Regions from separate parts of the Homo sapiens genome. Here region 1 is linked to region 2. Evidence: fine-mapped expression QTL. A gene starts in region 2. The other region holds a variant in brackets. All regions are shown on one strand. Distances are between the middles of the regions. Region 1 holds the start of FOXO6-AS1 (FOXO6 antisense RNA 1). Region 2 holds the start of CTPS1 (CTP synthase 1).

Region 1 (15,851 bases), 400 kb before region 2:
CCAGCCTCACTGTAGAGAGAAGGAGCTGAGTGGCGTGAGAGGGGAGGTCTATAAAGAAATAGGAGAGGAGGTGTGGGGAGAACAATCAAGGAATATCAAGGGAAAGAACGGAGGGGAAGGGGAAGAAAGGGGAGGAGGAGAAAGGATAGGAAGGAGGTGAGAGAGAAGAGAGAAGACGGGAGGGGAAGGGAGAGGAGGAGAGGCAGGGAGGCTGAAAGCATTATCAGCACTTAAAAAGCCAGCGGCTCAGTTCTTCTTTGGCACAAATAATGGCTTTTTATGAATAAATCATGTGTCAGACGCCTCCCAGGGAGTGGGCATAGAGGGGAGCGCGTCTGCTGGGCTCCAAAGCTGATGGGGAAGAGCCAGTTGCAGCCCCCCAGCCACAGGGGTGTTGCCCCCTTTCTCCTGATGAGACCCAGCAGGACAGAAGCTGTGTCTGGAATGATCCCTGGCCTGAGCCAGGCAGAGCTCGGTCAGAGCTCTGAGGTGGTCCCACTCCTCCCTGCTCATAAGCTGGGCTGGATCCCAGGGTCTGGAGTGTCCCTCTGCTCCCCTCCCCTCCGACAGACAGCAGAGCAGCCCAGAAGACACTCCTGGCAGGGGAACACCAGTGCTGGTGCTCCCGGAGAGAGCTTTGTGCCAAGACAGGCAGGCAAGCCCAGAGAGGAGGGTGTGCATGGCACATGTGGGGACAGAGACAGCACCTCACACAGGCATGGACTGCACAGCCCCGGCACTTGTGTGGGCACACTTGGAGGCAGATCCACTGTCATTCCCACCACACACACACGCACACACACACACACGCCCAGCCATGTGCACACTCGGCAGGGAGAACCTCAAGCACCACCCCACCTGCCCAGCACACTCACTAACCCCTAACACACACACAGACACACACACACAGGCCCACACAGACAGACACATATGGGACTACATGGAAACACACAGCCCTGCGCACACACACCAGCGGCCCACCCTCCGTCAGCCTAGGGTGGGGGCAGTTCTGCAGCCCATATGGAGCCCACACCCAGCTGGGCTGTCTCAGAGGCTGGCTGTAGGGTGGGGCTGGGGCATCTGTCCCAGGGGAGGGGCCATCAGCCTCTATGTGCTCCCCACTTGGCAGGGACACCCGCCATACCAGGTTGGGTCTCAGCCCCAACTCAGAGCCCAGAATCTGTGCGGATTCTACTGGCTCTGAGTTCCTCTGCTCCTCTGCTCTCAGCCACCTCATCAGAGGCAGTGGGGGCTGCACGAGAGCCTGGGTGTTGGAGGTACACACTCAGGGGCTCTGGCCCTTGCCAATAGTGTGACCTCACACAATAATTCCTATCTTATTTACTCCTCAAAACAAATGTGTGAAACAGGTGCTACTGCCCCATCTTTCAGACCGAGAAAGTGAGGCTCCAGAAGGCAAGAACATTGGGTATTCCTTTCTAGGACACCGTCCCCAATCCCCTGGGGTCCTGGTTTTCCTTCTCTTCTCCTCTCAGCCAGTGGGTCCCTCCTGTGCCAAGATGTTCATCAAAGCAGACTTGGACTTCCTGCTCTTCCAACTCTGCAATCCTCCCCCTCCCAAGCCATTTCCAACCCCTCAGTGACACCTTCTGTGTTCCTGATTCTTGACCTCCCTTTCCAGCCCAGACACCTTCTGGGCTCTGACCCCACTATGCAAGTGGACACCTCAGGGCCACTATGTTGCCCAGTGCCAGAGAATGTCATTTCACGCAGTGTGTATGCTCCTGAACATCCCTCCCTCTGCTCCAAATCCCAAAGATTCTCATGAACTATAGCTCAAATGAGCACATCAATTTCCCTAGGGCTCCTCCTGCTTTGGTGTGCCCCATCTCAAGGAATGGCCCTGTCTCCCCAGATACCCAAACAAAAACCAAGCATCAATTGATGCTTCCCTGTCCTTCATCCCCCAGGTCCAATCCACAACCAAGTCCCCAATGACTCCATATCCAAAGTAGATGTGAATTCATCCTTTCCCTTGCAGCCCCACTGTCCTCCCCCATAACTTGGTTTGAGCCACATCAGCACCTCTGGCTGGGCCACACTGTCCCTCTTCCACTGTTGAACCCTCTGGCCCATTAGCCTCCCTGCCATCAGTAATCTGTCCCTCTCTGAACTTTAGCCACACTCAACTGCTTTTGGTTCTGGAATCCACACACCTCTTGACTCTGGGCCTTTGAACATGCCATTTCATCTAAATCCCCTTCCCAATGCCAGTTCCTCCTACCAAGCTTAGCTGAGGCAGCACCAGTCCAGGCACCTTCCCTGACTCAAGTCCAAGATGAGTGCTGCCCCATCATTCATTCCCACGACAGCCCCCAGCTCCTCCTCCGATCAGCACAGCTTTGATCTATAATCGCCTATTTGCTGGCCTGTTCTCCCCAGGAGCCTCTAAGTTCCTTAAGAGTAGAGACTGTGTCCGTGTGGCTCTAGGGCAGCCCCAATGCTTGGTATAAGAACTTAACAGGTGCTCACCGAATCTTCCTGGAATGAACGAGTGCAGGACCTGCGCTGAACACTTTCCATACCTTTCCTCATGCCTGACAGAAGTTCATGAGATGGATGCTACTATTCCATGGTGTAGTCCAGGAAGACAAGGCTTCAGAGGCTGAAAATTTGCCCGAGGTCACACAGCTGGCAAACTGTAGAAAATGGATTCCAACAGCAGTCTGTGCACCTCAAAGGGATCTCTTTTCACCATCTCTACCCTCCTTCCCAAGTCATTTTCTCTCTCTGACCTTGTTTTCTCATCTGTACAATGGGAACAAAAATCGTGCCCAACACAGAGCCTGGCACTAAAGGTTCTCAGTAAATATTTGTGCATCCTCTCCCAATCTCTGAGGCTTATTTAGGACGCATTTTCCTGGGCCAAAACTTCGTGCATGCACATGTTCACAGAAACAGGTGCAGAGCTCGACGAAGCACATCTTCAGCACGGGGGACTCAGTAGGCGCTTAACCAATATGTGCCGGGCAGAGGAGCATTAGTTTAGCAAAGGCTGACGAGTACCCAGACAAAAAGCCACAATAGTGACTCAGGCACATGAACCCTCCCCCTGCCCCAAGTTCCCTGTCAATTATCCTCCGCCACCACTCCCCTTCCTCTAGCCCAAGGCGCGGGAAATATTTAAAACAATTTTATTCATGAAAATATGCTGTACAATGCACTCTACACAGCCTCGACACGGCACACACGCACACGCACACTCTGACGGCACGGCCACGGTACACTGCCTACGATACGCGCCGGGGACGCCGCGCCCACCGCCCGTCCCGGCCGGACACTTATAAATATGGGAGAAGGGCCAGAACTGGCGCGGAGAAAGGGGCGTCGGGGTTGGGGGTGGACGGGGCTGAGGCCCGCTGCAGAAGCTGAGACCAGTACTAGGGGGTGGGGGCGGTTGAAGAGAGGGACTGACTCCGACGGGGGAGGGGAGAAGCGAGGGCCGGCAGGGATGGGAGGGGGAGACTGAACTGTGGGGGTGGCGGTCGTCGGAGGGCGATTTGGGGGTGGAGGGCTGCTCAGGGTGGATGGATATAGGTAGGTGTGAGTTTTCCGCAGAGGGTTGCTGGCTTCGGGTGGGTGAGACTAAGACCAGTGGGAAAGTGTGTCAAGTGGGAATCAGATCCGTGTTTGGGGTGGGCGCGGGGTCACGGCTAGGCCTCCGCAAATGAAACTGAAGATTTGTAAACGCTCCCTGGCCCATCTCCTAGTTGGCTTCCCCGACCACCGTCCACACCAGGCGGCCCACCCCGCTCCTCCCTACTCCCAGCCAGCCTGGAATTCAGCCTCCTCTCCCAGGCTTCCTGCCCAGGAGAAGGGGGTGGATCTCAGGAGTGTGGGCAGGAGCAGTGGGGTGCCCCGGCCCCTCCCTCCCCTTCCCCGGCGGCCGGCCTCCGAGAGGGGTCCCTAGCTGGGCTGGGGCCGCCTCCTGGGGAGCTAGAGTCGGGGGCAGGGACCCGGGAATCAGGATGGGAAGACAGAGGCCCCCTGGGGACGGGACGGGGCGCCCGGAGGCGGGAGGCGGCCCTCAGCCCGGCACCCAGCTCTGGTTGGGGGGCGGGGCCCCGGCCAGGCCCGGCGGCGGCGGAGGCAGGGCCGAATCGAAGTTGAAGTCCATTTCGTCGCTGTCCATGAAGTCGTTGAGGATGATGGACTCCACGTCGCACTCGAGGCTCCCGCTGAACATGTCGAGGTCCAGGTCGGCCGGGAAGCGGTCGGGCGCGGCGCCCAGCGGCCCGGCGGCGGCGGCAGCGTAGGGCCCCGGCAGAGCGTCCAGCAGGAGGCCGCCGGGCGGGCCCCCGAAGGCGGCGGCGTGGCCCGGCGGTGCCAGGCCCGCGGCGCCCGCCTCGCCGGGCAGCGTCATAAGGCTGATGGGGTGGGCTAAGGCACTGCGCGAGGGCGCGGGCGGCGCGTACGGGGCCGCCCCTTTGCCGGGGTAGGCGGCGGCTGCGCCCGCCAGCGCCAGCTCCCCCGGCGCACCCAGCACCGGGCCGGGCCTGGGCGCGGGCCCGCGGCCCGTACGCGTCCTGCGCGCCGTCCAGCAGGCCCTCGGGCAGCCCCGCGCCGCCGCCGCCGTGCAGGCCCAGCGGGCCTCCCAGCTCGGCCAGGCGGGGCAGCTCACCCGGACAGCGCGAGCCCAGCGCCGGCGACAGCGCGCTGGCGGGGCTTGGGTACATGAGCGGCGATGATGGCGCCAGGGCCTCCAGGGCCTCGTCGTCCTCCAGCTCGGCCGCCTCCCCGAGCAGGGGTCTCCCGCCGCCGCGGAAGTCGGCCCAAGCCTCGTAGTCGTCGCTGGCGTGCGAGGCGGGGCTGGCGGCCCACTTGGCTGCGGCAGGCACCGGCCCCGGGGCGGGCGCACTCGGGGAGCTGTCGTCCGGGCTTCGCTCGGGCGCCTGCAGCTGCTTCTTCTTGCTCGCCTTGCCCTTGATGCGCAGGAACTTGGCCCCGTTGTCCATGGACACGGCCCTGCGCCGCGGGGTCTTCCCTGTCTTTCCGCCCTCGGGGTTCAGCATCCACCACGAACTCTTGCCGGTGCCCTCGTTCTGCACGCGGATGAAACGGGTGTGCAGCGACAGGTTGTGCCGGATGGAGTTCTGTGGCCAGAGACAAGGACGCGGGTGGGAGTCGGGGGGTGAGGAGGCCATGGGGAGAGAGGGGACGTGATGGAAAGAAGAGGGGGAGGATAAGAGAGTGTAGGAGGAGGAGGGAGATAGGGATGAGGATGAGGTAAGGGGGTTGGGAGAGGGAGGGGACAGGTGTAAGTACCGGGTTGGACAAACCCAGAGTACCCACCCTCTGCCCCAGAACTGCACCCCCCATCCCTCCCCACTCCCACACAGAGACTGCCCAGAGGGTGAGGCCACAGCTTTGGGCCTAGCCTTTCCCTGGGGGCATGGCCAACCCTGTGGGCTACTCTGAGCCTGCGGGGGGCCTGCAGCAGGGAGCAGGACCCCGTCTCCCCAGCTCAGCCAAGCCCCACGCGGGGCTAACCAGGCTGCCAGGGCCCCCAGCAGATTACGTAAGGGCTTATGCCGCCGCGGCTCATTTGTCCGCCCCCCTCCCTCTCCAGCCTGGCGTGGCGCCAGGAGCCCGAAAACCCAGGGCTCCAGAAATCAATCTCGCGGTGACTGATTAAGCCCTGTTTAGAACTAATTGCTCTTTCGTGTGTGGGGAGAATAAATTACCTGCTTTAATTTCGTGTCTTTAAAATGCAACTGCAGGTAGAGAAGACTGTTAACCCTTTGCTGGGAGGGCCTGGCCAGGGGAAACAGAGTAGGCTGGGGTCCCCAAGGTGGGTCCAGGCCTGAGACTTTTCGGAGGTATCACCCCAACTCCTCTTAGCTGCTGTGAACTCCACAGAGGGTTTGGATTCCAGCAGGCCCCTCAAAAGACATCCTTTTGCCACAGAGACCTCAGCCTTCACCCTCTTCAGTGCCCACCTTCAGGCCAGCCCAGCTCTCCTGCCTGCCCTTTGGGCTGCACCCTGCCCTCCTCTCCTGACCCACCTGCCTGCCCTCCAAGCCCCTTGCTGTTGGAGCCTTCTCAAAATCCCCACAGTGTGTGGCAAAGTCCCCATTCACACGCCAGAAGACCTAGGCTCAGAGAGAGGAATGGCTTGCCCAAGGTGGCCTTTTCTGCTGTCCCTCGGTTCCTCCCTGGGCTTCACCTCTGCCATCTCTCCATACATCCTCTTTTTAATTCTGCTGTGCCAGTCTCCAGTGCTCCCCATGTCACTGCCTGCTTTTGCCAGGCCTGTTCTGAGGACAGAGGAAGGCAGGAAGTCCACTGGCCCCACTGGAATCTGGAGTAGAACTTCTGCTGGGCCTGCGGCACCCCACCTCTGGGGCCTCCCACCTGGTGGCCTCAACTTCCTGGTCCAGGTACTGCTATGGAAACAGCAGGGGCTTGGGTATCAGAGGGTGGGACAGGATGCCTGGCTCTTTGGCTGCCTAGCTATGTGACCATGGGGTGTTTACTCAGTTTCTTGTGAGCCTCAGTGAACTACTCTGAAAAAGTGGGCTACATTCAGTAACTACCTCTTAAGGCTGTAAGATCATTACATGTGCATGAATAAGTATTTGCACACCAGGTGCTTATAAACGTTGGTTATATCCTCACTCTGGCCAGAAGCTCTCACCCCTTCGGTCCCCCAACAGACCTGCTGTTTCCATCTCTTTAACATCATGCCTTGTGTGCAACTGTGCTGGGCACCAACAACTCTGGGAAGCTGGCATTCTCCAATTTCATACACTAGGGACCGGAGGCCCAGAGGCATGATGTAACTTCCCGTGGCCCCACAGCTAGGCAACGATGCCCGGTACCACTCCAGCTCTGCCCAGCTCATGGACCTGCTCTTAACCTGTGAATCCACCCAGCCACACTCACAGCCACTGCTCTGTGAGGCTCTCCCTCCTGCCTCCTTCCCACCAGTCTCCTGGAGGAGGGGTCCTTCCTGCTGCCCAGGGTACCCTCCCACCCCTCACCCCCAGCTCCAGGCACTGATCTGACTCCTCAGGGCCCCAGGCTCCCTGTCTCTGGCACTTTCTGGCCTTTGAAGGCAACAGCTGGGACTTGCCAGCCTTGCCCTGCCTGGTTCTCTGGAGACCCTGAGGGGAGGGGAGCTGGGCCCCCAGGGAGCAGTGCTCCCTCAAGTAGATACCC[C/G]CTTCCTGTTCCCACCCCTGCACCTGGCTCCCCAGCCCCTCCCCAACACCTGTGTTCAGCCTCCTAGGAGGCCTCAGTTCTCCTCCCCCATAGGACTGTCTGGCTTACAAGAGGCTCCACCTCCCACCTCCCCATTTCTCCAGCTGGAGGTCACTCAGGCAACACCTCTTTATCAATGTCATTATGTCCTGGAGGAAGGACAGTACCAGGTACCAGCACCTAGCAAGCGCTTGCCCATTCAGCCCTGGGCACTCTAAGTACTTTATCAAATGTAATCATTAGATGAACTCCACACAAGTCAGGGATTGTGATCCCTATCTCATAACCGGAGAGTGAGGCTCAGAGATGTTAAGTGAGTTACCAGGGTCACACAGCTTAAGTGCTGTGCCATGTATTGATTTCAGGTTGGTGTTTTGTTTTGTTTTGTTTTGTTTTGTTTTGTTTTGTTGAGACAGGGTTTCACTCTAGCCCAGACTGGAGTACAGTGGCACGATCTCAGCTCACTGCAACCTCCGCCTCCCAGGCTCAAGTGATTCTCCTGCCTCAGCCTCCCAAGTAGCTGGAATTACAGGTGCGTGCCACTGCCACCCAGCTAATTTTTGTATTTTTAGTAGAGATGGGGTTTCACCACGTTGACCAGACTGGTCTTGAACTCCTGACCTCAGATGATCCACCCGCCTCGGCCTCCCAAAGTGCTGGGATTACAGGTTGGTCTTATTCTAAGTCTAAAGGATATCACATTCTGCCATGGAAGACAGAAACAGGTCTGAGAATCCCAAAGAATCTTAGGAAGCCAGTATTCCAGTGCTCCTCAAACTTTCCATGTAAACCATCCCTAGAAGCTGGCAGCAGGGGAAGTCTGGGGGCATGTTGCACAGGTCAAAATTTCCTGCAAGTCTAAGCTTCCTTTTTAGACTTCAAGGAAATTTTGCATAGACTTCATAATCCACCCACATTTTCTTTATACACATTATTCACATGTTTTAGAATTACCGCCAAGACAAGCTCCAGGCCTCTGAAGGTTTGCATCCTTCCCTGCTCTGTCCCATATCCAGCCAGGTACCCCTGGAGCTCAGGCCTCAGCCTGAAACCATGGCTGGCCCAACCCATGGGGAAGAAAGGACTTGCCCAAGGCTGTCCGAGACCTGGTGGCAGAGCAGGGATGTGAGCCCAGGCCTCCCGACCCCCAGCCCCGTGTTCCTCCCACTCTACCAAGCCTGACCTAGATGAAGTTTCTCCTTCTTTGGGGGCCTCAGTGTCCTGAACTATAAACTAAGGAGATGGGCAAGTTGTACTCTGGGAACCTTTTCAGTTTGACAATGAAAATCCTTAGAATCATTCAGTCCAGAGGTTTTCAAACATTTTTCTTAAATAGGGGAACTCTTTCTGTAAATGAGATTTAGTGCAAAACTTAAGCGTTACACACTCAAGCCAATGGTGGTGGGGACAGGAGTACCTGGATCCCTGTGCACTCAGCACCCTTTTTCACAGAAAATGAAGCTCCTGGGGAGGATTCTGCAGGCCAGATGGATGGGGTCTTTGAGGCACAGAGGGATGCCATGCCTTGCTCAGGGTCAGACAAGGTGGCTCAGAGCTGAGCGATGACCTAGGCCTCTGACTGCTGAGCTGGGCTCTGAACCAGGTATGCTCCAGGGCTGTGCCCCATGAGAGAAGCTCAGGCCCTGCAGCCCAGTCTGGCTCCTCAGGGCCCAGCCACCTGGTACCAATCAGAGCTCCCTGCCAGATCCAGTGGCAAGCACTGATCACAGCTCTGGCTCACACCACAAGGCCTCCTGGGAGGCCAGAGGCCATGGAGGAGGTGAAAGAGGCAGAGGAGGGAGATGCCTCTGCCAGGCAGCAGTAACCAGGGCTCCCTCTTAGAGTCGCCTAGCAACCCACCACCACAGCCACAGCCCTGGCATGCCCGGGCTCCCCAGGTGCCCAGAGCTGGGCCCAGCTTCTGGGGCCTCATGCCTCCCACACCTACATCCAGACCTGGAGCATGTTGCTAGGGGAGTCAGGACATACCTGATTCAGGGCCCGAGGGAGACCATCTGGGGGCAGAGGGAAAGGACAGTGGGTTATATCTCATGCCTACCCCGTTCTCCTTCAGAACCTGGGCCAGGGAGCCCAGCCCCCAGGGATTCCCCCACCAGGGAGGAGGCTAGAGTAGGGCAAAGTACATCAGCTGTAGCGTTCGAACTGGATTCCCCGTTTCAGCCCCATCACCTGTGAGTGCTATGACCCTGGGGCAAGATGTTTTCAAGCTCCATTCCTCAAATGGCTCCCTGCTCCCTCCCTCACCTCCTTATAGCACTCCACGCAGCAGCCAGAGTGACCCTTCAAATAACCGAGATCACGTCCATTCCTGCCCAGATCCCTCCGACACCCTCCATCTCACTCACAGTGAGGAACAAAGGCCTTGCCATGGCCCACAAGACCCACAGTGACCATGCAGGTACCCCGCTCCATCCCTCCCTCCCATCCTCAAACCTGCCAGGCATGGTCCCGCCTGCCCCCAGATATCCACAGAGATCGCTCCTCTCCTTCCAGTCTTTGTTCAGATGCCATCTCTTGGAACGGGGCCCATCCTGACCTCTCTTAAAAACTGTTCCTCTTCCCTGGAATTTCTTGGCCCCCTGATCCTGCTCTATGTTTTTCTAAAGCATTTTCACATTCTAAATTAATACATTATTTATCCTATCTTTATATTAGAATATAAGTTTCATGAGGGCAGTGATTTTTATCCTTTTTAAAACTGTACCTCATGTGTTTGGTACATACTAGACACTTAAATGTTTGTCAAATGAATGAATGGATGAATGAATAAGAGAAAGTGTGTATGTGCAAGGAGGAGTAATACTGTGTTGTAGGGAGATTAAATAAGACTGGGCAGAGTGGCTGACACATAATAGGGGCTTTTCCAAACTGGGCAGAAAGAAGACACAGGCAGGATGAGAAGCAGGCAGTGGGGTGAGAATGTCCGAAGCAGTCTGACCCACTGAGGGGTGCCAGGGAGAGGAGTAGGGCATCCATTGGGGGTGAAGGAGAGGTCCCACGGTGCACAATGCAGCTGCCTGCCCTCCCCAGCCCCCCACCCTGCTCCCCAGAGAGACTTGGATAACCCAGGGCTGGCACACACCGAGGTCTCCCCTGGGCCAGAAGACGCTCCAGGAGCCCCAGTGGGAACAGGATAACCTCGTCGTTGCTGATGGTGCCTCCCTCATGGACAGGGTCTGATCCATTTGGTGGTGGCAGCTCATCTATCCAGCAGGACACCCTCATCTATTCCCAGGATGCCCTTCACCCACGAGCAGTAATGCATTCACCTGACAGCACAACCCCATTTATCCAGCACACCAGTCCCATTTATCCAGCAAGTACAACCTCATTTGCTAACAGCACTCCATTCACCTGACGGGCCCCCTCATTTATCCAGCAGGACACCCTCATTTATCCTCTGAGTCGGACACTCTCCTTCCTCCTGTGGTGTGGCTGTGTTCTCTGATGGAGCAAAAGCCGACTGATCCAGCAGGACGTCATCTCTACTACAAGTACACTTCATCCCCTGACAGTACAACCTCATTTATCTAATAATGCAGCCTCACCTTGCCCCCAAGTACCACCTCATTCCCTGACAGCACAACCTCGTTGATCTTCCGGTACAACCTCATTTCTTCTCCCAACACAGCTTCATTCTCCAACAGCTCAACCTCATCTAATCTTATGCCTCCAGCCAGGGCCTGCCAGATCTCCGGGAGCCAAAGGAGAGTGTAGAGAAAAGAGAGGTCCCTCATTTGCTGTCCCCCACCCACAAGGGCTGCCTGGTGCTATAACCATCCAATTTCTCCAGGCCCAGAAGGGGCCATGGACTTTGAGTTCTAGGCTGCTTGGCCAAGCCAGAACTCCACTATTGCCCTGCCTCCTGTTCTGTCCCCACCATGGCTACAGAGGGCCCACAGGATGGATTCTGGGACATGGACTCATGGTTGCTGTACCATCTTCTTATTTATTTATAGCCAGGTTCGTTCATTCTTTCTTTTCTTTTCTTTTCCTCTTTCTTTCTTTCTTTCTTTCTTTCTTTCTTTCTTTCTTTCTTGCCAGGGTATTTATTTATTTATTTATTTAGAGCCAGGGCCTCCCTCTGTCACCCAGGCTGGAGTGCAGTGGTGCAATTATAGCTCATGGTACCCTTGACCTCCTGGGCTCAAGTGATCCTCCCGCCCTACCCTCCCGAGTAGCTGGGACCACAGGTGTGCGCTACCACACTCGGCTAATTTTTATATTTTTTGTAGAGAGGAGGATTTCTTATGTTGCCCACGTTGGTTTCAAACTCCTGACCTCAAGTGATCTTCCTGCCTCGGCCTCCCAAAGTGCTGGGATTACAGGTGTGAGCCAACTTGCCTGGCCATCTCTGTGCCATCTTCTTCTGATCCTGGGCAGTGGGACTAGGGGAAGTTACCTTTTCTGGGGCACATTTAGTGGTGTGCTGGCAAATGTTTAACCACCAGCTCTTCTGGAAGTTAAAAAAAAAACCTACCTGATTTGATTTGTAGCTGTTGCTGCTTTCTGTGGTACGGATACTCACATCATAGCCAATTTTAAACTGCCACATGACGTCACCGAGTGCAGAATTGGGAAGAAGTGTGCACGATCAGCCCTCATGAGCCAGTGCAAACCAGCTCTCGCACACCACTGGCATGTGCTTCAAATGCTGAAGCCAGAGAAGGGCACCACCTACTACATGCCTAACATAGGCTAGGCTCCTTTAATCCTGATAACCATCCTGTGAGTAGGTACTGCGATTTTACAAAGGGGGCAAACTGAAGCTCAGGTGGGTTAAATGACTCCTGAGGCCACAAAGCTGGGAAATGACGGAGCCAGGCTTGGGTCTTAGGGCTGCTGGATTCCAAAGCCAGAGCTCTCCCACACCTACCCCTAATGTGGCAGGGGACACTCTGCTGTCCACCCCAGTGGCCATCTCCACCTTGACGCTCAAGCCCAAGCTCTCCTAGCTTTCATCAGAGACAGGGGACAAGGACTGTGCCCCCACCTACCACCAACCCTGTGCTACCTCCTGGCCTCCCTGGTACCTGGGGTCTTTCAGGATCCAAGTGCGGCCCTGCATCTTGTGTCCACCCATCACAGCCCAAGCCCAAGGTCAGGTGTGGATGCCTGTCCAGGTTGCATCACAGTCAAAGGCTCAGCCCAGCCCCTCCCTCAGGAGACTGACCCTGACTACCTGATGGGGAAAATGACCCAGCACCTGTTACTGCAGTGACCTCCTGTGGGGCTGTGGTGAGGGCTCTGATCCCCTCTATGATTCCCATTTCCTCCTTCCCTCCTGGCCTTCCTTCCTGCATACGGAGAGGTCAAAGACAGGAGACTGAATCCCAACTTCATCCATGTGACAGTGGGCCTCCACTATAACGAAGATAACAATCCCAGCATCCACAGGGACATATGGGACCTGGATGAAACCTCACATGTCAAGAATGTCATCCCATCCCTGTCTCAGAGCCCCAGGAGCCTCCCCATCCTACCCCTTGCCCCCACCCAACTCTGGGGCCCCAGCCTGGCCTAGGAACACACACCTGTGTCAGACAGAGCCACAGACACCCTGAGAGTCACTTGCCCTGCCATCTGGGGTGAAGTTCAGGTTCTCAGTCCAGGCCTCTTCCTGGCAAAAGATGTGACCTGGATGATGCCAGGGACCCGAGGCCATGTGCAAATCCTCGGCACTAGGGTCTGCAGTGGAGAAGGGATAGAAGGGCAGCTGGGGACCATGGGACACAGATGTCTCCAGGTGAGTGGGCTCAGGATCAGCAGCGGATCCTAGAGTGGGCAGCCTGGGGCCAGGAGGAACCAATATCCAAAGGAAGGCATGAGGCTCTGGCACCCCCCAGAGAAAGCAGAGCCCACACACCCAGGCTCGGCAGCAAATAAACCACCAACGAAAGTCCAACCTCACACTGCTCCAATGCCCATTCGTCCTTGTCACCTGCGGGCTTGGGTCCAAAACCAGGCTGATACTAAAGAGCCCTCTGATGTCCTCCAGCCTCATCGCCCCCTTCCCTTAGGGCCATCTGGGCCTCCAACCACCTTGGATGTCCCCATCCCTGTGCCTTTGCACACTGTTCCCTTTACTCTTGTCCCTTTCTCTGCTCTATCAGTTCCTGTTCCTCCATCAAGGCTAGCTCTGTGGCACCTTCCTCATCCCCTATGCAAGCCCCAAAGATAGATGCTCCCACCTTAGTGCTCCTGTAGAGATCTAACAGCAAACCAGAGCAAAGTGGTGTCTGAGCTGGCCTCCCTACTCGAACTCTGTGGGGCAATCCTTGGCTCAAGAGAAGTCAAGAGATAGGATGGAGCCCTCAGTAGCCACGAGCTGCTCATGCCTGGCATTTCTGTGTAGTTTCTGTTCAGCAAAATCTCAGGCCAGAGCTCCAAGGCTTGCCCACCCTCTACCAGGGTCCTGTCTGACCCTCCTCCCTGCTGCTTTCTCCTGCAGCTCCTGTTGCCTCTGCCACCTCCTTACTTGACCCCAGTACTTCCTGCCTCCTTGGGAAAGTGAGGCAGTGAGTGGGGAAGGACTACTGCTTCTGAGACATTGACCACATGCCATGCCCTGTGCTGCCACTCGAAAATTATCTCATTGAATTTTTGTAACAACCCTCTGGTTGGTTTATTGTCCCCATTTTACAGATGAGAAACTGAGGCTCCAAGAGACAAACTGACTTGCCCAGGGTCGCATAGTGTAAGTGGTGGTGCAGGAATTTACACCCAGGGCCCTTGCTCTTTCTCCTGCCCTGAGAGACCTCCAGAGAGGAGCCAAAGCCAAGCAGAAGCTCCAGCGTGAGCCTGGGGTAGGGGCAAGGGGACTCTCCATACTAGTTCAGCAACCCCTTCACAGACCCTCCTTCATTCGGGATTAAAAAGAACCCCTAAATGCAAAGCATTCAGACTTTTCCATCTCCCCTCTCAGTCTGAGCCCCTCCCTCCCTCTGCAGGCAGCACTTCCCCACTCCCCTGCCCCAGGCCCTGGGAGCAGCTGCAGTGACCTCACCCAGCCCTGCCCTGAGCCCAGCTCTGGGGAGGGCCCAGCAGCTGTGCCCCAGCCCTGCAGGCTGGCTCCTGGGGGAGAAAGAGGAAGAGTGGGCATGGTGCCAAGAGAACCATCTGCTCTCCCAGGGGCATGGCCACCCGCACAGACACTGGCCTTGCCCCCAGGGGCTGCCCTTGGTCCCCATGCCAAGGGGCTCCAGGAGCCCAGGGCGGCCCACCCAGACCGGGGCACCAGCCCTCATCTGCCATCTGTCTTCTCCTAGAGACTGAGAGGTCCTTGCAGGACATGTTGGAGCACTCAAATGTCCACTGGAAAATGAACAAGTGATCAGAGTAAGCCCTAGGGGCAGAGGCCAGAGGCCAGGGTAGGATGTGCTGAGCACTGCCTCCCCCAGCCCCGGCCCCAGCCTTGTCTGGCTAAGAGCCCTCAATCCCTTCCCGGGGCCCTCCATCTCGGCACATCTGTTCAGCTGGCAGGTGCCTCAGGAAGAGGGCAAGCCCCTTCCCCCAGGGCCCCAGCTCAGGTTACAAGAGGAGGAGGAGGAGGCCAGCTGAGGACAGAGGGAGGGGACAGGAGAGAGAAGGAAGAGGCCTCACAGCTTCCCAGAGTGTTGGGGGAGGGGAACTCAGAGCCAAAGAGGGAAGGGCCATGCCCAAGGTCACACAGCTTGCCAGTGGGGCAAAGAGGAGCCAATGTCCAGGGGCGGGCAGTCCTGGGTTCAAGGGTGACCTTGAACAAGACATGTCCTTCATCTGTGAAAATGGGGTGCCTAAAACCTGTCCTGCTTGTCATCCAAGGCTATGGAGAAGGCTCTGGAGGCTAGAAAGCAGTGGGCCCACCTAAGGGCAGGAGGGAACTTGGACATCCTGAATATCTGACACCTCGGTCTCAGGGACAAGAAAGGGAAGCATTAGAGGAAGGACCCTATTATTATCCTATTTTATAGAGGAAGAAACTGAGGCTCAGTTGCCCAAGGCTACGCAGAGGGTAAGTAGAGCTAGGCTATGCCCGCCTGTTTGCCTCCAAGACTCCTAACCACACAGCTTGGCCTCACCTAAGGGATTCTCAAGGCACCAAGGGGTGCTGCCTATGCCAGGCCTGATATCTGGGACTCTTTGGGCCTCTGCCCTATCTCAGGCTCATTTTCTCCCCTGGACCCCAGTAGCAGGCCCACACTGGGCACCTGGGCCAGCCTCTCCCTCCTGTCCACTCCCCACAGCACCCTTGAGTGACCTCTGCCCATGTCATTCCCATGGAGAATTCGCAGTGAGAAGCCCAGAGCGTGGGATGCTGCTCTTCAAGGCCACTCACTTGCTTTCCCAGTTTCAACGCCTGCTGGGCCCCACATAAGCACAGCCAGACCCTCTGCGGCTCCCCACACAGTCCTGAGGCCTTGACCCTCTTTGTCTGCTTTGTCTCCCTTCCCCTCTTCTACCTCCAAACACTCAGCTCATTATCTGGCCTTCCATCATGACCCTGAGCAGGTTTTACCCTGCATCAGAGTCAGTGTCCTCCTTTTATCTCCCTAGCTTGACCCCTGCAGGCTGGGATCTCAAGGTCAAGGAGCTAGTCCAGTCCCCACCCAGCAGCCCTGCATAATAGG
Region 2 (15,851 bases):
AACAAGCCTCCAGTCTTCTGCCAAGGTGGGAGGAGGCTAACGCCCAACTGTGCACTGTAGGAAAAAGATGTCAGGGTCTGAGTCTTCTGAAGCAGTAGTTACATGAGGCCCACCCTCATCCCACTCCTGAGCTTTTGGGGTTCTGCAGGGCAAACAGGGCTGCTTCTCTGCTTTCACTGCTGCGGGCTTAAGATCCGGCACTCAAGGTCAGCTTAGTCGGTTCTATGCATCCATCTGCTTTCCGGCTTCCCAATTTTTGTTACTATTGACTCCTCTCCACAAGATTTGTCTTTAAAAACAGCCTCTTTACTCTAGTTCCACCATATAGTAAAGACAAATGCACACGGCCAATCTACATCTGCAAATGCAACTGCCCTGATTTTTCAAATGTTTTCTATTTGATCTTTTCAAAAAAGTATGATTGTAACAAATTTAAACTTACAAAGTTCTTTATTCTCTGCTTCCTGCACCTCAAGTGAAAACTACTAGACAATGAGTGAAAATCATTCCGGTTTACCTTTCCTCCCTCCTCTCCATCTCCCCCAAAGTAAAACTTTCAATGTCTTACTTACCTGGGGAACTAGACTGACGTGGATGTTACAAAAGTTCTCTCTTTTGACCTTGAATTGGAACTGACGGAAGGCCTCAATAAAGGGCATGCTTTCTATGTCCCCCACGGTTCCACCAAGCTAGAAGAACAAAGTTGTTTCAGAGGTTAGGCACTAAACCCTTCTCTGGCAGTTTAGTTTTCTAACAACTGTTCTGTCTTCCTGATTCAGTATCAGTAATTATGTAACACGGACTCTCTAACCCTGTATAATGTTAGTTAACAGTTAACAGGAATTAGACAACTCTTTGTACTAAAAGGTTATTCTTTTGGACAGGCTCATCCTTCCCAAAGGTTATTATGGAACTTTCCACATCATTTCAAGAAAAAGGTCAGATGAGAGAGGTGCCAGGAATGTTATCTCTATCACAGTGACAAAGTAAAAAAAAAAAAAAAAGAAAAACCTAAATCTTATCTCCTTAGTTAACCATAAATAATTTTTGTACTGAAAAAGCATCAGTTGGCTGGGCACGGTGGCTCACATCTGTAATCCTAACACTTTGGGAGGCCAAGGCAGGCAGATGGCTTGAGTTCAGGAGTTAGAGACCATCCTGGGCAAAATGACGAAACCCTGCCTCTCCCAAAAAAGTACAAAAACTAGCCGGGCATGGTGGTGCGCACTGTAGTCCCAGCTACTTGGGAGGCTAAGGTAGGAGAACTGCTTGAGCCCAGGAGGTCAAGGTTGCAGTGAGCCATGACTGCTGCACTGGACTCCAGCCTGGGTGACAGAGTGAGACCCTGTCTCAAAAAAAAAGTATTAGTTATAAACAAACTGCTGGAACTTTTGAGTCTCCTGTTATCTGAGGAACACTGAGATCCAACAGCTAGGATCAGCACAGCAGGAGTACAGATACTGAAACCAAATGAAGCTCATTCGGAGACGAATGCTCTTGCCAGACGAAAGCAAAAGATCTGCTGACTTGCTCAAGAGACAGATGAAAATGTGTCACACTACTCATGGGGACAATCAGTACTAAGTGATTGTACCATAAATGCTACAAAAAAGGAACACTGGGCAAACTACGGTTTTCCCTTGCGTGGCCATTCCACATGACTGTTAACTGTGCCCTTACCTGCCACATTGCAACATACTGCACCAGAGATAGGAAGGCCAAGGGCTCCACTGGGAACTGTCTTATCAGTTATTGATGGCTGACTAAGGAGATGAGTACACTTGTTCACATGTGCAGGAATCATACAAACCTCAATAACACACACTTGAGGTTCCAGGCCATCTTCATCTACAGGTATTAACGCCTGTCTCATCACCCACTCCTGGATTGCATCTGTGATATGAGGGACAACTGGGAAAAAGAAAACAAACAGGGAACTTACGCTTGTCCATCTACATTGATTGAGACAAATGCACTTACTGTGAAAACAAACTGCAGCACTCTTTGCCTGGAGAGAGTAGCAATAGGGTCATAAAAATACTTTTGAGGCCCCCTTTAACTGGCCTCAACAAATCTCTGAGCTCACACTTCCTGCAGCCAGATGTCTAAGTTGTTGCTGGAAGCCCTGCAACAGAGCAAGGCTGACAGCAGTGTCCTGAGCCACACAGGCGCACGTGCCCCTGTGCAGAGTCTACCCTTTTGGCCACACACCAGTATAGCCAACCCTATTGCTCACAGCTGAAGGTAGGCACATTACACTTCAGTGCACTTCCAGGAACAAGAGACTTCTGGGACCCTGTTCCATATGTTTCCAGTTTACCAAAGGGTAGACAATCCACTGCAGTGAGCCAGCACAGCACAGCAGAGTGGTTAGAAGCACAGCACCCGGGGTCAGAATGTCTGGATTCAAACCTTAGTCTCATGACTCGTTAGCTGTGGATCTTTGGGCCAATTATAGAACCATTTTAAGCTTGTTTTCCCCACCTGTTAAGCTGTGGAAATTTTGTGAGACAGCACCTGTAAAATGCTCGGTAAAGTGCCTGCCATGTCAATGCTCAAAGAATGCCAGCAATTGCTCAACACTTCAAAAATCATAGTTGTTGGGCACAGATGGCAAGTTCCTAAAAGGTGAAGATTACTGTTTAACTCCAGGTTACTCCAGTTACAGCAATGCCTCATGCACAAGGATATTCATTTGCCTCACGCAGAAGAATATTCATTATCTACTCCACACATGGCGTCAAAGTGATCTTTTAAAATTCAAGTCAGAATTCATCACTCCCACACTTCAACTTTTCGGTGGCTTCCCACTCCTCCGAGTACACTCCTAGCTTCTTGCTGCGGCCCAGCGACTGGGTAGAACCTGGCTGTGGCTACCACCCCCGCTCTCTGACCATCTCCCTCAGTCACTCTGCCTTAGCTATGCCGGCCTCCCCTCCATTCCCGGACCAACCACGCCTTCGTAGCCCTGCGCCTCCGCACTTCTCATTCCACTCTCGCTGTGACTGGCCTCTCAGCTCAAATGGCCTCTCTTGGGAGACTCCCCGACCACCTGCCCAAAGTGGCTTTCCCCAGTCACTCTGTCCTCACTCCACTTGGTTTCTTCACAGCTTCTGACAGACGTCTCGTTTTGTTTCATGTTTGTTGTTTGCCTCCCCCACAGGTAACCTCCATGTGGGCAATGACTTCTCTGGTCTTGCTCATCACATGCATCACCAGCACCAGTGAGGGTCTGACTGCAGTGAGCATTCAATGCAAATTTGATGGATGATGAATAAATAAACAGCAAACTGTAAGATCAAAACCATTCTAATTCCTAACTGATTCCTTTCTATGTGTCAGGAAGTCAGGGAAACACTTCACTGACTTTTAGTTTCTTTAATCTTCCTAACAACCTAGAGAGGTAGGTGTTGTTATTGTCTCCATTTTACAGAAAAGGAATCCACATTTTGAAGAGGTTAATTTGCCCATGTTCACAAAGCTGGTGAGAGGGGAAGCTAAGATCCAAACATGACCCAATTAGCCCAGAATCTTGCCAGGGCAGCCCCAGACCAGAGCCAGCTGTCAGTGTGACCCTCAGCTTTCAGGCCAGTAAAGTCTAAAGCCAAAAGCAGATCTGCTCTCATAACTCAGATTAAAGCCACTTTTCAGCAACCTCTCCAAATTTGGGCCACTGCCATTATACTAGATCAGTAGTTTTCCATCCCCACCTTTTTAAAGCAGCAAAACATTTTCCTTAAATGAATGTTTGTACAAAACCCCAAAACAGCAAATAGATGTAAGCGAAGCTGTGCCAGTGAAAGCTTGGGAGGACCCAGAAACCCACTTCTCAGGCTCCTCCTAGGCCATATGGCACTGATGAACGGCCTGGAAACCAGTATACACAATAGATGTTCATTTCCTTCTCACTTCTATACATAGTAAGTCCCAGATGCACACATACATGCCATCTGGCTTAATGCCCTAATCGAGTTGCCTTTACCACTTTCACACTCATTACTGTGTAAAAACAACAGCTCTCTGGACTCGTATCATGCTGCCTTAGCAGAATTGACAAGCTTCAACGAAGAAGTAGTTCTTCAAATTATTTTTTTTAGCAAACAACAATATAATTCTGATTTTTCAACTGAAGGCATATTTCAGTAACAATACCTTGAGAGTTTCATGCTGAAATCACATACAATGTAAACTTCTGTACTCAAAAGGGAATTACACATCTGTGTAGAGGTGGGAGGGAGAAGAAATTAAACTGGTTAAGACTTTTAAGCTTTAAAGGTAAATCCAGTATTACCTTGGACAGTTTTCCCCAAGTAATCTCCTTTCCGTTCCTTGTTAATGACATACTGGTATATCTTTCCAGTGGTCAGATTATTGTCCTTGGTGAGGCGGATGTCAAGGAACCGCTCATAGTTACCCAGGTCAAGGTCTACTTCCCCACCATCATCCAGCACAAAAACCTCACCTGCAGTGAACAGAGAAACCATTTACGTTAAGTGAAAAATACCTATACCATGGCACAACTGCAATCCTGAAATAAAACACTCATTAACAAGGTGTGCAATTACGTAATAGGAAGCACAGAAATTCACTTCTAGAAGACTAAATATGACACACAAAAAGAAAAATTACCAGCTATTCTCTAAAAGGTAACCTCATACTTCTAGCCTGTCAACAAACTCATTCTTAAGAAGAGTTATAAAATAGCATGGGATGGGAAGAAATGACAGCCCAGTGGGCTGTGCATACAGGACTTTACAGTAGTATACAGCATCTGCTGCTTAGGGAAAAAGAACCTTCAGAAACGTCTCCTAATTGAGCATAATATGGTTTAAAGTATGATAACAATATTTGATTCAAAACCTGGATATATGCATATTAAGCTTGTGCTGATTATAAAAATCAGCTTCCGAGCTCTGCTTTTGTTCTAAACAACTTTGTGAAACTGCACATATTTACCCCATTCTTTTGTTGCACATTCATTCCATGAAACTTCACTCTAGAAATTTTGCCCAGAATGATTCATTCCTACCATCACAATAGGAGACAAGCTCAAACACAGGAAAGGAAAAAAAGTCTCATTTTCTCCCTCAGAGAGATAACTCATCCTCTGCTCAAGAATTCTGTATTAAATATCACTCAGGTATATGGATCTTTTCCTGATGCCATTTGTTACGAGGATTTCTGCACTAGTGACATTTAATGCTTGCATATTTTCACCTCAACGCTAGAGAGTAGGAGTACGAATGCAGAATTTTAAAACTTAAGAGGTATGTTTTAACATCTCTCCCAGTTTTAAGCAATTAATCTTTGAAGTAACAGCCACAGCTGTATGTCACACCATTGACAGGTTCTCAATAACAACAAAGAAGTAAAAGGCAGTCGGGCATGGTGGCTCACACCTATAAAACCCAGCACTTTGGGATTACAGGTGGGAGGACCCAAGACCAGCCTGGACAACACAGTGGAACCCCACCTGTACAAAAAATTTAGAAATTAGCCAGGCATGGTGATTTACACCTGTAGTCCCAGCTACTCAGGAGGCTGAGGTGAGAGGATCGCTTGAGCCAAGGAGGTGGAAGCTGCAGCGAGCCATGATCACACCACTACACTCCAGCCTGAGGGACAGAGTGGGATCCTGTCTCAAAGAAAAAAAAAAAAAAAAAGAATTCTGCTTCTTCCTTTCTAGGTGAGAAAAGTATCATTCTGCTGTATTAAGGGACCTGTTAGAAGGCAGAAAATAAAAGTTATGCAAACCGTGCACATAATTCCCAAGTGCTGACATGTTCTGCCACATGCAATTATTATGAAGAAATCCACTGTGCTTACCATGCTCATAAGGAGAGAATGTTCCTGCATCAATGTTAATGTAGGGGTCAATTTTGATTGAAGTTACATGTAAACCACATGACTTGAGTATTGTGCCCACACTGCTGGCAATGATTCCTTTTCCAATTCCTGATATAACACCACCAGTAACCAGAATGTACTTCATTTTACTCTTTGACCTGGAAGAAGGAAAAATTACAGATGATATAAATGTATCTCAACAAACCAAACTCATCTGGGTTCAAACACTGGCTCTGCCAATTATTAGCTATGAACCCTCTTGAAGCCTCAGTTTCTCTGTCACAGGACTTCAGAAGGTTCTCGTCAGGTTTAAATAGGATCAAAACAAACATTTCTTGGATCACTGAATGGCTTTAGTCAAATACGTGTAGAAAAACAACTGCTACTCTAATAACACAGCTTTTGTTTAAAGCTTTGACAACTAATAACCTTCAGAGTCAACCTAATAAAACCAGCTCTAAGCTGGCTGATAGAACACTACACCCCAAATGTTTGCTGACATCACTGCCAGACACTGGGATACCAGGCAGGTGCCTCATTATTTTCCCTACATGGGAAAAAAATTCAAACTTGGATAAGTACTCCAGTTCTCCAGGAAATAAATAATGTCTTTGGCTAAACTACAACATATCATCAAGAAAACACAGCTCCTCTAGGTTACAAAAGATAGACTAAAAGGAAAGAACATCAACATTTAAAAGTGGTTGCAGCTAAACCAAAATTCCTTTAATTAAAAGTAGTTCTCTGGCTGGGCATGGTGGCTCATGCCTGTAATCCCAGCACTTTGGGAGGCAGAGCCAGGAGGATCACTTGAGGTCAGGAGTTCGAGACCAGCCTGGCCAATATGGGGAAACCGCATCTCTACTAAAAATACAAAAATTAGCCGGCTGTGATGGCGCACGCCTGTAGTCCCAGTTACTCAGGAGACTGAGGCAGGAGAATCGCTTGAACCCAGGAGACAGAGGTTGCAGTGAGCTGGGATCATGCCACTGCACTCCAGCGTGCGCGACAGAATAAGACTACCTCAAAAAAAAAGAAAAAGTAGTTCTCTTCTATAATTTAACAACAACTTGCTCCTTGTCAGAAATCTCTCCCAGGCATGCAATGAAGAGAGACTGTAAATACTGGGGGAGAGGGACATCAGATAAGAAACCAGTCTGAAGCACATGACGGGCAGAGGACTCAAAGAGAGGGGAGATGAGATTAAATCCAAAAAGCAGTGCCACGGTGGCAGGGAAAGGAGAAATAAGATATAAGGGCAGCAGAGTCAAGATGCAGGTGAAAACAGCATCGACAAGAGGTGAGGAGACCGTGACAGGCTCACCACGGAGGATTTATCACTGGTCCCCAGCTTCAGAGGTCCAGGATCGTCCATTTGGTCAGCAAACCCAAATGTGACCAAAATGAAAAACACAATTAGAAAGTAGCAGAAAATGCTTACTTTGGCATGGTCAGGACATTTTCCTCCTCAGGAACGTTCCATGTGAAGCCAAATTATGATAAAAATAAACTAAGGAACAAGAAAACTAAGGAGTTGTGCTCGAAGCATTCCCCCGCCCCACCCCCTCCCCAGAGCAAGAAAGAACACACTTGGCAGGGAAGGAAGAATGCTCAGAAGTCTTCCCCGCTCCAAAGGCTCTTTGCATCCTCTGCTGCAGCATTTCCAAAAGCATGCTCCCTGGTTTCAACAAAATGCACATGGGATTCTCAAAAAGGGTGTTATGGATATAAATCAGAGAAACGCTGATTAAACCAAGTCATTTAACGCAAGAATCCTGGGAGTGTTTAGCAAGTAAACTCGCACTGTGATCACTGCTATACAGTATGCGGTGTCTCCAAGCTTATCTGACCCTAAGTCTCTCACTTTACAGTTCCTTATTGACACATGAAAATCAGTCTTAGGTACATTTTAGATATGTTCTAACCAGACATATACCTTACTGAGACTATACCCTGGTCTCCCTAAGTTTTGGATGATCCTAGAAATTCCTCTGCCACCGAGTGAGTTACTTCTACAAAAGATTCATCTCATCCAATTACATTTGATTTGTCCCAATTTTACTCTAAGAGTTTAACATCTCTCTTTACGTTCTTTAGTTTCTCTCTTTAGATTCTTGCAGTCTCAGTGCCTGGCAATACATATGCCAGTGTACATAAAGATCAGGCGGGAGGCTCATTCATTCATCCTTATGGGCTACTGACTTACATGACAGCTACTGTGCTTGGGGACTGCAAACATTAATCAGATTTGGGCCCATATCTCAACTTTCTGGCAGTCCAGTTGGAGAGATGAAACATTAACAAATAAATGAGTAATTCAGTGACGGTGGAAGCAGACAGAAAACATGTTTAGACTATAAAGGGGGACGATGAGAGCAGACGCTTTCAGTACCATGGCCATCAGAGGAAGGTGAGACAAGTCCTGGGGGTAGTGGGCGGATCCAGGCGGCTCCTGTTTTGTAGATATGACTTGCAATGGGCCTTGAAGGACTGACTGCACGACTCAGAGCACAGGAAAGGGAACAGGGTGAACAGGCAGGTGCAGGGCAGCTACAGAGAACAGAGGTAAGGCCGTGAGGGGGAAGGCGGGGAAGCAGGGATATACAGTGGAAGATAAACTGGAAAGGTAGGCAAGGGCCAGATCATGTGCAAACTGGCATGCCCAATCTGAACTTAATCCTGAAGGTGACGGAAGGCGCAAGAAGGTTTTCCGGCACAGAAGTAACGTAAATCAAGACGCATCAGAGAAATTCAACAAAGACTGAGGGGGGAAATGCTTTTTCTTTCAATGTTATGAGATGAAGTGCCAGCCCCCATCACTAGTGTGCAGACCTCAATCATGTCACTTGAGCTGCCTGCAACGCGGGTTCTCACCTAGGGGAATGGGGGTGAGAATCTCTGCGCCGCCCGCGTCACAGGGCCGCTGAGGATTCGAAACTGTAACGAGCGTGGACGGAAGGGCGCCACGCAAACGTGGTGAGCTCTATACACCGCCAGCGCCCCGACCCCCGGCCGCCGGGAAGGGAGGAAGCCGTGAGGCCCAAAGGCCAGCCGCGGGGCCCAGGGCCGGCGAGTTCGCAGGCCCCCTCGTCCTACGGCGCGGAGCTGCCGCGCCCAGCCCCGGGCGGCTGAGCCCGCGCCGAGGCCGGAGGCCCGAGGCCCGCACTGCTTGAATGGATGGGCGACTGCCGGGCTTCCTCGCAGACGAAGAGCAAGGGCGGAGGGTGTGGGGGGGGGCGCCGCTCCACTCCCCTACGGCCTTCTCCGTCCGACGAGCCCGGCCGAGCTGATTCGGCGCGGCCCAGCGCGGCAGCGCAGGCCCCGCAGCCTCTGAAGCCGCCCCGCGCCCCGCTTGGCCCCTCTCCCCAGCGCCGCCCGGCCACGAGGCCCGCGCGCGGGAGCCGGCAGCTCGCCGGCCGGGGCGCCCGCCCCACTCCCGTTAGGCACACAGCCCATTGGGCAGGACGCCGAGTCACCTCGCCCCTGATTGGTAGGAGCGACGTCCGTCACCGCGGCGGCGGGGCTATTCGGCGCCGGGCTCAGCTCGCGCCGCTGACTCCTGCGCGGGAGAACAGATCCCCCCCGGGATCCCTGGAGTCAGCCTACCTGCGGCCGGCTTCAGATCCTCCCGTCAGCGACAGAGCTGGGCCGGCGACGCGCGCGGAGCCCCGGACAGCCAGTGAACAACCCCGACCGCATGCGCCCGGCAGTCTTTCACGGAGGCGGGCTCTAGGCTGTGCGCACGCAGAGGTTGGAGGGCGGGCCGGGCCTGGAGGGCGCGGGGCGGGGCGGGGCCTGGAGTGCGCAGGCGCGGGACAGGACCGCTGGGCCGCCTCCGCTGAACTGTGCCGCCGTAGGTTCGAGGCCGGGCGGGTGGTGGCGTGTCTGCCCCTCTGCTTCCGTCCCAGCCTGTGGCCCAAGCTTACTCTCTTGAAGGGGAGGAGGCTGTTTGGGAACTCACGCCTGGCCTATTCGTCACCTGGCCTCGCGTCCTCCCACAGCGGTCTCCTGGAGTTCTGGGCGTCGCCTTCCATCCGATGGTCTTTCACTGTGGGCTCCTGGCGGTGATGCGCCAGCGCATCTCTGCCTCCGGGCGAGGGACGGCGGCAGCGCCACCCTGGCCTCCAAGACGGAAGTGCGGAGGGTCGCGCGGCGTTGGCTCCTCGTCGGCCTCCCTCCTCCCCACACCTGCCCCGAAGGCGGCTGCTTTGGATGGACTAGGATCCCGAAAAGTACGGTTTCATCTAGCTATCGCTCCCTGAGCACCGACTGTGCCACGCACTGTGCTGGGCACCGAGGGACCCTCTCCTCGGACTAACGATGTAGGGAGGCACACTGAGCAGCTCATTACACTTTATGGTTGTTATGGGTGCTTGCTGCAGAGATGCTGGTGCCGGGGCAGTGAGTGCCCAGCGCGGGGACTGACCCAAGTCCGGTGGTGATTGGGAATTCAGGCGGGAAGCCCGCCCTGAAAAAGTAACTTTGAAGCAGAGACCTAAGTAGACGGCAAAGATGGGAAAGGGAGAGGCGGGGATAAGAAAGTGAGACATGCTTGAGCCCAACAGTTCGAGACCAACTTGGGTAACATAGCGAGACCCCGTTTCTTATAAAAATAATAATAGTAGGCCGGGCGCAGTGGCTCACACCTGTAATCCCAACATTTTGGGAGGCCGAGGCAGGCGGATCACAAGGTCAGGAGTTCAAGACCAGCCTCGCCAATATGGTGAAACCCCGTCTCTACTAAAAATACAAAAATTAGCTGGGCGTGGTGGTGGGTGCCTGTAGTCCCAGCTACTCAGGAGGCTGAGGCAGGAGAATAGCTTGAACCTGGGAGGTGGAGGTTGCAGTGAGCCAAGATTGCACCACTGCATTCCAGCCTGGGCGACAGAGCGAGACTCCTTCTCAAAGAATAAATAAATAAAATAAAAATAGTAATAATAATTTTTTTTTAAAAGTGAGGCAGAAGGAAAAGCCTGTGTACAAGCCCAAAGAGGCCGGCACAGCTGAATTGGAAGGCCAGTCTAGCCAAGTCCACAAGGGCCACAGGAAGCGAGATTAACATGAGATTAGGTTGAAGAGTTGGGTAGGGCCATACGGTGAAGAGCATTATAGACCAAGTAAAGGCTTCTCTTTCTCCTAGGGATAGTGGAAAGCTGTAGAAACTTTTGAGAGGCTTTTGACCTTCCTTTGAATAGTGAATATATGTACATGGTTATAATTTTTCCCCAAACACTACACAAGGGTATCCATGAAAAGTAAATCTCTTATTTCTGTACCCCAGTGTTCCTGTTTTGTTCTCTAGAAGCAGTCTGCCACAAGTTCTTAACTATCTTCACTGAAGGAGTTTTAAAAAAAAAGATGTGATGGGATCAGATTTGTGTTTTAGGAAAATCATTGAAGCAGATGGATTCCCAGAAACCAGGTCAGGAGGCTCCTGCAGTGGCCTCTTTTAGAGGCTTCTGGCTCCTTCCAGATCTGGATCACCAGTGCTTCAACCCTGACAACCTGCCCATGCTGCATTCAGCTCCAAATCTAAAAAATGTTTGGAATGCCAGGCATAGTGGCTCACACTTGTGATCCTGACACTTTGGGAGGCTGACACAGGGTGGGAGGATTTCTTGAGTCCAGGAGTTCAAGACCAGCCTAGGCAATATAGTGAGACCCCATCTCTACAAAAAATACAAAAATTAGCTGAGCATGGTGGCACGCATCTGTAGTCCTGGCTACTCCAGAGCCTGAGGCTGGAGGAATGCTTGAACCCAGGAATTCAAGGCCAATGGGAGCTAGGATCCCACCACTGCACTCCAGCCTGGGCAGAGTGAGACTCTATCTCAAAAAAAAAAAAAAAAAGTTTGGGTTGTCTTTGAAGGTACTCTACAGCCACATCTTCTTTCAAGAAGCATTTGATGTTTATCAAAGTGCCTGGAACATAACAGATGCTGAGAACATACTTGCTGAGGTAATGAAGATGCTATGGGAGATGGAAAAATGAGCCATTCACCCAACCACTCCTCTGAATGACCACTTGACATTGTCTTCTTCCTCAAAGCTCTTCCATCTCCTCCCCCATATTCTCCTCAGCTGGTGGTCTTGCTTCCCATTTCACGAGAAAATAGAAGCCATCAGTAGATTTTTCATATCCACCAACCACTTTTATCTGCGCACAAGCTCTGCGTTGTCTCCTGTTACTGTGGACAAACTGCCCACACTCCCAGAGGTCAACCTCCTCTTTGCTCCAAGTGCCATATCCATTTGTCAACTCAAAGAATGTCTAGTATGCAAGTGCCATATCCTTTCATCAACTCAAGAATGTCTAGTAGAATGTCCCTTCCTGCGTCATCAGTCTTTCCCTGTCTAGTAGATCTTTTCCACTACCGTGATGCAAACATGCTGCAATTTGTTCCATCTTAAAACCCCTCTCCTGACTCTATGCCATTCTCTAGCTCCCCCTCCATTTCTGTTTCACTTTTCAGCACAACTCCTAAAAAATGTTGTTTGTACTTTGCTGTCTCAATTTCTTCCCTCTCTTGAACTCATTCCAATCTGGATATTTTGCTCATATAATTTCACTGAAACTGATCTCGTCAAAAATTAACCTCCATGTTCTCAGACCTCTTCTTTGTACATCAGCCTAGACTCCAATCTCTAATGTCCGTAAGTCCCAAATAAAGACAACAGTGGGCTGGGCGCAGTGGCTCATGCCTGTAATCCCAGCACTTCGGGAGCCTGAGATGGGTGGATCACAAGGTCAGGAGTTCGAGACCAGTTTGCAAATATGGTGAAACCCCGTCTCTACTAAAAATACAAAACTTAGCCAGACGTGGTGGCAGGCGCCTGTAGTCCCAGCTACTCAGGAGGCTGAGGCAGGAGAATCACTTGAACCTGGGAGGCGGAGGTTGCAGTGAGCCAAGATTGCACCACTGCACTTCAGCCTGGGCGACGAGCGAGACTCCGTCTCAAAAAAAAAAAAAAATAGACAACAGTGTGGCTGTATGTGCATGGCATGAATGCATATGTGTGTGTGCACGTGCGCATGTGTATGTATTTACATATTTGGGCTGCTTCTCTCCCCCACCATAGGCCCAGTCTCCTTTTGGGCTCCTAGGTGCAGCTATACAGCCCCAGAGCTGCCCCCAAACTGACCACTTCCCTAAGAGCATTTGTCACAGCTGATCATTTCCTCCTTAAAAGGTGGGTGTCCTTTACTTGGCTTCTAGGAAACCACTTGCTGTTCATTTTTTCCTATTTCACAGGTTTCTCCTTCTAGATCTCCCTACCTAGATCCTCTTCCTTTTCCTCTATCCTGAACTATAAACATTGCCCCAAGCCTCAGTTCTAGGATCCCTTCTCTCTAAAGTCATTATCTAGTCATTAAAACCATCTGGCCCAGACGCAGTGGCTCACGTCTGTAATCTCAGCACTTTAGGAGGCCGAGGTGGGCGGATCACAATGTCAGGAGTTCAAGACCAGCCTGGCCAACATGGTGAAATCCCGTCTACTAAAAATACAAAAATTAGCTGGGTGTGGTGGCGCAGGCCTGTAATCCCAGCTACTCGGGAGGCTGAGGCAGGAGAATCACTTGAACCCTGGAGGCGGAGGTTGTAGTGAGCTGAGATTGCACCATTGCACTCCAGCCTGGACAACAGAACAAGACTCCGTCTAAAAAACAAAACAAACAAAAAAAATCCTTATTCTGACTACTCCCAAATTGATGTTCCCAGGCTGGATGTGTCCTGAACCCCAAGTTCTCTTCCAAGCCCAGGTCCTGAGGTGAGCCAGGCGCCTCGCCTACACGTGGGCCAACTCTATGATCCCATTGGTGCTCTAGAGCTCCCCGTGGGATCAGGCTGAGGCAAACTTCCTGAAAAGAACCAGTCTGTATTTTAGGCTTTGTGGGCCATATGGTCTCTTGCAATCACTCAACTCTGCCTTCATAGTGCAAAAGTAGCCATAGATAATATATCGATTAAATGAATGTGACTTATTTCAATAGAACTATAGCTGTGTTCACAAAATACTCTTTTACAGAAATAGAGCTTGGGTCTGAAGGCCAAAATGTGCCAACTCCTGAGCTAAACACATATCTTTGTCTCACTTTTTCCCCGCCCCATGCTCCCCTCGCTCCCTCACAGTCTTCACCTGAGGTTATTCCTCAGTCACTCGCTGACTCAAGAACCTACCTCCGGCTTTCTTCCTAGGGAACCCAGGCTAAGACAGGGTGCCTCCCGCACATTCCGTGGCACACCCAGTGCTTCCTCTGAGGCGTTTATCACAGCCTGCTGAGATTGCCTGTTCACTTATCTGTCTCCTCCATACCAGATTGGAATCTCTTTGAGGTTACTTAGCCTTTCTGTGTGTCACTTTCCTTATCAAGTACGTCTTGTGGACCTTTTAGTAACCAGCATCTAGCATCTGTAACTCCCACTACTACCCTATAATGCAAGTGCTGTCATTATTACTATATTACAGACGATGGAGCCAAGACTGAACACATGTAAACACCTTCCTGAGAGCACACGCGAAGGTTTGCTTTGGATTGTCTTTCTGTTTCTGTCCCTCATTCTGCCCATCATCAAGTCTTGCTTATTTTTTCTTCTCCAGGACTTCCTCGAGCTTTCTACTTTTATATGAATACGCTGTCACTCTAGTCTGGCATTCTAATGGATTATCTGGTTGAGAAATGGGGCAGGAGGGAGCCTACAACTAGTGATAGATTTGTTGTTTTTTTCCCAGATTGGGGCTATTTATGTTTTATTTAGTTTCTAATAGATATGTAAATGGCGTAAAATTCGAGTGTTAAAAAGGAATACACAGTAAAAGCTCTCCTTCCATACCTGTTCCCCAGCCACCCAAGTTTCCTCCCAGAAGCAACCACTATTACCAGTTTCTGGTTTATCCTTCAAGCACACTCTGTGCATATGTAGATATTCTTTTTGGCTGTATGTTATTTTAATATGACTGTATGATGTTGGATTTTCATCACTTGAGCTAGCTGTAATTATGTTATTTAGTGAATTTGTTGGTTTATGTCCTCACTTTGTTCAAGAAAGGATTTAAAGCCACTTGTGTGTGTGTCTACAAAATGTGAGCAAAAAATGAGGCAAAGGAAAGGAAGAATAGGAATTTTTCATCTTAATGACACTCCATTACCTTCAGGATAAAGTCAAAACCACACTGTGATGTATGAGGCCATGCAAAAATTGGCCTCAGTTTACCTCTCTAGCCACATCACCCACCCCATGCTCCAGCCACAATGATTCTTTCAGTTCTCTGAACATGCCATGTATTCTTTTCCACATATGAATCGTTGCATAGACCTCTGCTGGCTCTCACCTACCCCCCTGCTTCCTGCCTTTTTCTTGCTAACATCACATCACATCTCAACTTGGTCTTCACTTCCCCAAAGTAATTTTTTTGGGCAGACTCTCTCCCTCATTTGGGGTTAGCACTTCTCTCCCATTCTTTTATTGCTGCTGGGACGTCCCAGAGCATAGCACTTACCAAATTATATTTTAAGGGAGGCAGAGGGGAAGGTGGTGGTTAATGGGTACAAAAAATATATAGTTAGAAAGAATGAATAAGACTTAGTAGATTGGGTGCAGTGGCTCACGCCTGTAGTCCCAGCACTTTGAGAGGCCGAGGTGGGTGGATTGATGGAGTGCAGGTGTTCAGACCAGCCCAGGCAACATGGCAAAACCCCATCTCTACAAAAAGTACAAAAAAATTAGCTGAGCCTGGTGGTGCATGCCTGTTGTCCCAGCTACTGGGGAGGCTGAGGTGGGAGGATTACTTGAGCCACAGAGGCAGAGGTTGCAGTGAGCCAAGATCATGTCACAGCACTCCAGCCTGGGTGACAGAGTAAGACCCTGTCTCAAAAAAAAAAAAAGACTTAGTATTTGATAACACAACAGGGTGACTATAGTCAGTAATAATTTAATTGTACATTTTAAATAACTAAAAGTGTATAATTGGGCTGGGCGCCGTGGCTCACGCCTGTAATCCCA

Evidence for each region. PIP is the estimated chance that this variant, and not a neighbour inherited with it, causes the effect.
Region 1: its variant is the best candidate, but not a certain one, in a credible set for the expression of CTPS1 in putamen (GTEx, PIP 0.89).

What each region holds. Positions count from the first base shown.
Region 1 is chr1:41,370,879-41,386,729 of GRCh38, reverse strand. FOXO6 (forkhead box O6) reads right to left here. Exons shown (of 3, transcript NM_001291281.3): 2 at 4,522-5,114; 3 at 3,140-4,520. The coding sequence ends at 4,049. FOXO6-AS1 (FOXO6 antisense RNA 1) reads left to right here and starts at 11,061. Exons shown (of 2, transcript NR_135817.1): 1 at 11,061-11,205; 2 at 11,478-11,726. RefSeq lists a silencer at 4,444-4,493 and enhancers at 14,356-15,254, 15,255-15,851. The variant C/G (reference allele first, on the strand shown) is at 7,183.
Region 2 is chr1:40,973,432-40,989,282 of GRCh38, reverse strand. CTPS1 (CTP synthase 1) reads right to left here and starts at 9,587. Exons shown (of 19, transcript NM_001905.4): 1 at 9,454-9,587; 2 at 5,827-6,005; 3 at 4,292-4,462; 4 at 1,811-1,911; 5 at 573-689. The coding sequence starts at 5,992. RefSeq lists an enhancer at 8,589-8,638 and silencers at 8,839-8,978, 9,049-9,338, 9,609-9,798, 14,012-14,306.